Homo sapiens: one gene and its partner. The protein of the gene in region 2 interacts with the protein of the main gene of each other region in a pairwise test. Each region holds a gene or a part of one and is shown on either strand. Other genes may lie near its edges.

Evidence for each region. Proteins that work in one complex are often made in the same cells at the same time.
Region 1: the proteins of YLPM1 (region 2) and BMP1 interact in a two-hybrid assay, tested with the Homo sapiens proteins (one large-scale study listed by IntAct).

The regions. Positions count from the first base shown.
Region 1 is NC_000008.11:22,203,372-22,206,871, forward strand, and holds part of BMP1 (bone morphogenetic protein 1 isoform 3 precursor), read left to right. Parts: intron 1-3,482; coding exon 3,483-3,500. UniProt on the Homo sapiens protein: Metalloprotease that plays key roles in regulating the formation of the extracellular matrix (ECM) via processing of various precursor proteins into mature functional enzymes or structural proteins.
Region 2 is NC_000014.9:74,832,816-74,836,315, reverse strand, and holds part of YLPM1 (YLP motif-containing protein 1), read right to left. Parts: intron 1,052-3,500; coding exon 905-1,051; 3' UTR 869-904; intron 542-868; 3' UTR 1-541. UniProt on the Homo sapiens protein: Plays a role in the reduction of telomerase activity during differentiation of embryonic stem cells by binding to the core promoter of TERT and controlling its down-regulation.

The DNA of each region.
Region 1 (3,500 bases), on a different chromosome or scaffold from region 2:
GTGATGAAAACCCGTCTCTACTAGAAATACAAAAAATTAGCCAGGCGTGGTGGGACGCACCTGTAATCCCAGCTACTCAGGAGGTTGAGGCAGGAGAATTGCTTGAACCTGGAAGGCGGAGGTTGCAGTGAGCCGAGATCATGCCATTGCACTCCAGCCTGGGCAACAGAGCAAGACTCCGTTTCAAAAAATAAAAAATAATAAAAATGATACCTACCTTGCAGGGTACTAAGCTTTATAGACATGGCTCTGAGCCATTAGCACCATGCTTGGCAAGTGACTCTTCCCACCCTGGTTAGGTTGACAACCCAGGTTTAAACAGATGAGCTGCTCACAAGCAGAAACAGAACCGAAGCCCTCAACAGTGAACCAGTGGACAGTCGAGGGCTTCCAACCCTGTGACCTCAGGCTTCCCAAATACACAGTTCCTGAGTCATGGAACTAGCTAGAGGGGACCTTATACTGATATTGTCTAAACTGCATTCTGTCTCTGTACTCCCCTGTGTAAAAAGATGGTTTGATAAAGAACAGAATCCACAAGATAGCCAGGACAGGGGTGAAGCTCCTGGAGAAGATGGCCTGTTTACCTTTCCATCTGCTGATTCACCTTAGAAGCATGTGTGGTTTCTTACTCAGGTGATAGGTTAATTACAGATCTGTAAGCATTTCCTGATTCCTATGGAGGACCCAGCACTATGCAAAGATCTGTAGGGGATTCAAGACAGGAACCCCTCTGTTCCCACGGAGATTGCAGCCTAGCTGGGGAGAGACATGGGCGTGCAAGGAACACAGGGGGCGTGGAAGGCCAGAGCGCAAAGAGGGAGGGCAGGGGGCTGTGTGAACCCACCGATGGGTAATGGTGACAGCTCACGGTTCAAGTGTGGGTAGACGGGAGCTTCACCTGCCTCTACCAGGGACTTGAGAGGGCCCTGTTTTCCGGGCCCTCGTGCTGTATCTTGCCCATCCTTCTCCCCACCAGTCATAGTGCCTGGCCGCCTGTTTCCCCCAGTGAAAGCTGTCCAATAATGTCATCATGAATAATGATCATCAGCTTGTAAATCTGAGTCGGGGCAGGGCGTGGTGGCTCATGCCTGTAATCCCAGCACTTTGGGAAGCTGATGGGGGCAGATTGCCTGAGCTCAGGAGCTCAAGACCAGCCTGGGCAACATGGCAACACCCGTCTCCACTAAAAATACAAAAAATTAGCCAGGCGTGGTGGCGCAAGCCTATAGTCCCAACTGCTTGGGAGGCTGAGGCACAAGAATCGCTTGAACCTGGGAGGCAGAGGTTGCAGTGAGCCAGGATCGCGCCACTTCACTCCAGCCTGGGCAACAGAGCAAGACCCTGTCCCCCCCCACCCCGCCCGCCCCCGCAAAAAGAAATTGAGTTGGGGAAGCCATGCTTTTCAGAGGCAGAAGTCAGATTGCCGTGGATTGAGGAGACCTGCCGTGAGAGTGTGGCCATAGCGAGTGTTCTCGAAGGCTAGCTGGAAACAAAAGGAGAGCGATGGGCTGTAGCTGGAGGGGCCTGGGAGAGCTCTTTCAGGATGTGTGAAGGTTCCGAGGCTGCAGAGCTGAGTGAGAGCGTGAGGCTGGATCATTTGTGGTGTGAGGGTTCCCACGCGTGGGCAGCAATGAGCTGCACCTCCCAGAAGGGCAGTCCATCCTGACGGGGAGGAGGGACACTTGCTCTGAGGCTTCAGGGCAGCAGGGTAGCAGGGTAGGTGGGTTTGCAGGTCGGAGTCCAGAGGTTGAAGCCATTCATGGTGGAAGGCCCTGGCTTTGTCAGGAGGTAGGAGAGAGGTGGTCTGCCACTGGGAGCTGACACAGTGGCTTGAGGAGGGGGCTGGATGTTTGCAGCAGTTACTAAGGAGGTGAGAGATGGAGCTGGTAAAGGCCAATCCAAAGAGTATCAAGTGGTCTGGGGGCCCAGGTGAGGCTGGAGCCACAGGTGGAGTTTTCTAAGATAGTGCTGTGCAGAGCCGGGGATGCAGGGCCACGCAGGGTGCAGAGGAGCAGGCTGGGTGGTCAGCCCTGCAGTCAGTTAAGTCAATCGAGGAGGAAATAGTGGGAGAGAATAGAAAGATCAAGACCCTGGAGGTCTCTCTAAAATTAAGAGGCCAGCCAGGCACAGTGGCTCATGCCTGTGACCCTAGCACTTTGGGAAGCTGAGGCAGGAGGATCGCTTGAATCCAGGAGTTTGACATCAGCCTGGGCAACATAGTGAGACCCCATCTCTACAACAAGCAAAAATGAAAAAAATTACCCAGGTGGCATGCCTGTAGTCCCAGCTACTTGGGAGGCTGAGGCGGGAGGATCAATTGAGCCTAGGAGCTCAAGGCTATGGTGAGCTATGATCGCACTACTGTACTCCAGCCTGGGTAGCAAAGTGAGGACCCATTTTTGTTTTTGTTTTTTAATTTTAATAAAGCCAAATGACCATGATCAGGAAGGTGAGGTCCTGAGCACCCCGAAGGAACAGGAGGTGGCCACAGAGGGGTGATGTGTTTGTGATGTGAAGAAACAGTGGATGATGACAAAGCCCTCAAGGAACCGAGAGGCCGTCTTGGGTGGACCGTTATATGTCTGTTGACTTCACCTGGGAGGGTAGCAGGAGTGGGGGTGGGGAGAACTGAGTCAGGTGTCAAAGTCCCCTGTGACTGTCCAGGCTGCTGGAGATCAGTGGATGACAGCTTCAAGGAGGGGCACAGGTCAGCCGGGTGCAGTGGCTCACGCCTGTAATCCCAGCACTTTGGAAGGCCTAGGCAGGTGGATCACTTGGGGCCAGGAGTTCGAGACCAGCCTGGCCAACATGGTGAAACTCTGTCTCTACTAAAAATACAAAAATTAGCCAGGCATAGTGGCTCACGCCTGTAATCCCAGCACTTTGGGAGGCCAAGGTGGGTAGATCTCCTGAGGTCGGGAGTTTGAGACTAGCCTGGCCAACATGGCGAAACCCCGTCTCTACTAAAAATACAAAAATTAGCCAGAGATGGTGGCGCACGTCTGTAATCCAAGATACTGAGGAGGCTAAGGCAGGAGAATCACTTAAACCTGGGAGGTGGAGGTTGCAGTGAGCCGAGATCACACCACTGCACTCCAGCCTGGGCAACAGAGCGAGACTCCATCTCAAAAAAAAAAAAAAGAAAGAAAGAAAAGAAAAATGGAGAGGCACAGGTGATATGACCCCTGTGGCCCAACACCTACAAAGGTCTGGGGGTTGTCCAGGGAGCCTGCGATGGCTGCTTCATGAGTGCTGCCATGTGAGGCCTCACTCAAGGCTTTTGTAGGAATCGGGCAGCTAGATTTTCCCCAGACGCAGTAACCTCATGAAAAAGAAACGATGCCTGCCTGCCATCCAGTTCATAAGTGGGACAAGAGATGGAAGAAAGGAGGGGGGGCAGGAGGGAAGGGCCTTCCCCACAGGAGGCATCGGAGCTTGGGGTCCCTCTCTATCCCCTTCCGTCACTCGCTTCCCTGCAGCCGGCTGTGACCACAAGG
Region 2 (3,500 bases):
TCATTGAGCCATATAATATTCAATGAAAAAAAGGTTTTGGGATGTTCAGCTAGCATTTAATTAGGACATACCATATTTAAAAAGCAATTAAAAATAAAATTAAGAAAACAAGAGAAAAGGGCCCATGCTGTATAGCCCATGAATCTCATCGGCTTTATCATGAAAGTTTATTGTTTTTAATCCTAGTACAATCAGCTACCAGTTACATACAGTAAAAAACAGAAACAGCCACAAAGCAATGATGATAGAGATAGTCTGTGACATTGTACAGTGGAGGAAATACTCTCTGTTGGAATCCTCCAGCAGACCCCCGCCTGGCTTCAGCAGTTAAGCTATCACTCCCTCCCTCCCCAAAACAGTTAAAAGAAAAATTAACGTCTTGCTTGGGTACAGCAAGATTCTAATACCTCTTGGGGACACTGGAGAACTTTAAAAAAAACTAAAGCAGTAGAAACAAAACAAGAACTGAAACGTGGAAGCAAGGTGACACACAAAGAAGCTCCGCGAGGCCTTGGCTTCAGACCACCTCAAAGCGAACCACCTGGAAAGAAAAGAAAAGGCTGTCACACCTGGAAAGAACAGGCAAAAAGTTCAGTAGCCCTTAGTATAACATCATTTCAGTCCTTCCCAAATCTATAGAATTCAAGTTTTTCTCAAGGTTTTTATTTTTATAAGTGAGCCAGCTTGCAGAAAATGGCTTCCTTTTCTAATAGTATTGTAAATGTTAACAACTAGTACATACTTACTCTTTCAGAACTATAAAATAACACAAGAAGAGAGCATTTTTAGCAAAATATGCTGTCTTCTTTATCTCAAACCCTTTGAAGCAACCACACAGTAGGCTATTTATATGACTGTGTACTCTTACCTTAGAGGAATAATGACTCCGTTCAAAAACTAAGTCTCATATATATTTGGTTCGATTGAGGGCTTTTTCAGCCAGGTGACCACTTTCATCTGTGATCTTCTCCCAATCAGTCTGTCCGACCACAAAACCTATGGCCCTTTTCCTATCTGCATCCTTCTTCTCTTCCAGGTCTGCCCATCTGACCTAAAAAGAACATAGCATTAGGCTGAGCTTTAGGAAAAATAAATATGCAAAGAGCCCCCTCCCTCTCTGGACAGTCTAAGGGGTAGAATGACTCATTTGAAACCGCAAGTTTAAAAAATTAAAAACTAACCCAGGAAAACTGGGAAAAGCCATATATTTTAAGTCACAAAGAGAAAACTCTCTGGACAATCCAAGTCCTAACCATTCCAGCTCCTGAACAGTTCAGCTCAATCCTGTCCTCTCTTTCTCCTCTGCCATTCCTTTTTATTTAATAATTCACTGACCTCATTTTTTTTTCACCTGAAAGCAAAGCACTAATCTCTACCTAGTCTTCCTGTCTGTACTCACCCGCTCCAGATTCATGCTGCCAGAGTGATCTTCCTAAAACACACAGTTGTGATTCATTTGCTTTAACTCCTTCCCCTACCTACCAGGCAAAGTCCAAGAACTCAGGTCCCTCTTGATCTGGCCCCAACTACACTTTCCTGCAACATCTCTGGCCAGTGCCTATGGCATTTTATACAAACAATACAGACTTCCTTCTAGCACTCAGAGCGCATCGCACCATTTCATGTCTCTATAACTCTGCATATATGTACTAGTCATTCTTCCTGAAATGTCTTTTCCCTAACCTTATCCACTTGGCATGAGTCTAGTCATCCTTCCCTGACTTACCCCTTTTTCCTTTGCCAATCAAATAATCACTGCTTTCCACAGTTAACTTCCGGATTTTGATATGTCTGCTTTTGAACTTCCACACCGTAGTATAATTATCCACTTACAGATCTGTCTTCCCTAACAGACTATCAACACCCTAGATCAATAACTGAATTTTATTTATCTCTACACAAAAATATTTCTTGAAATTTAATCTTAGAGAAAACAGTAAGCTGGTATTATTACTTTCATTCATGAGATAAAGAGACCAAGAAACAGACTCAACTGATATAATTCATGGCAAGATTACAACTACAAATATATGGATCAGGGATATTTCCTATTGGTATTCTGATTTTTAATATATATATATTCTTACATATTATGCTTTTTAAAAATTTTTGTAATTTTTTTTTTTTTTTTTAGAGTCAGAGTCTCACTATGTTGCCCAGGCTGGTCTCAAACTGCTGGACTCAAGCAATCCTCCTGCCTTGGCCGCCCAAAGTGCTAGGATTACAAGCATGAGCCACCATGCCCAGCCACATATTATGTTAATATGTTTTTAAAAGTATATGGAGATATACATATTCTGTAAAAGTTCAGATTCTTAAAAAGAAACTATGAATCTGTTGCTTGCACTACACAGTATCAAAGACTGCAGAGAATGTATTTTAAACATGGCTTGTGATTTATTATCTGTGACAAGGAGAGAGAACCAGAGCATGGAAACACCATGCTCTTTACACTGAACCTGGGAATGCATTATTGCTCTAATGTACACTAATTACCATTTGCATGACTAGCAATGAAATAACTAGGCTTTTAACAGTATCACCTGGTCAAAGGGAGGAGCCAAAGTAATAGCAGTGGGAAGAAACTGGTAACATCTGACTTTCCAGAAAGTAGGTTTTTAGTGTATAGAAAACCTATGGCTCAATGTCTTTCATGGGCTTTAGTAAGAAGCCTAATAAATAATGTGGGCTTCAATATAGAAAAATCTTTGGGCATTCTGCTCATCAATGCTGAAGTACCTATTTTGATTAATTCATATATACAGCCAGGCACAGTGGCTTACACCTATAACTCCAGCACTTTGGGAGGCCGAGGCCGGCAGATCACGTCAGCCTAGGTGTTCAAGACCAGCCTGGGCAACAAGGCGAAACCGTGTCTCTACTAAAAATACAAAAATTAGCTGGGCATGGTGTGTGGTGGGTGCCTGAAATCCTAGCTACTAGGGAGGATGAGGTGGGAGAATTGTTTGAGCCTGGGAGGCAGAAGTGGCAGTGAGCCAAGATCACACCACTGTACTCCAGCCTGGGTGACAGAGAGACCCTACCTCAATAATAATTAATTAATTAAATTTAATTCATGTATATTCTCTCAGCTCCACCTGGATCAAGGATACACATTTTAGCGAAAGATCATTACGAACTAAGTCTTGGGCATTTATGTGAAAACACAATACTGTGCTCAGGATGCCGTGGGAATGGATTTAAATTTGCTGTGGGCTGGTTACTTTTTCTTTGTTCAGTGGCCACAGTTTGCCCCTTATATGGTAAGGCTCATTGAATAAAGAAAAAGTAAACAGCCCACAGCAAATTTAAATCCATTCCCACGGCATCCTCAGCACATAGTTAAATATACTTATCAACCTCAGCACATAGTTAAATATACTGATCAATCTCACCTTGCTACTTTTAAATCTACAGTTTAAATTCTAAGTTTTAAACTCAGATAAAATAAAGAATATAGGATTAGAAGAAAAAATGTGTAGGTGTTTTTGAAATGAGTA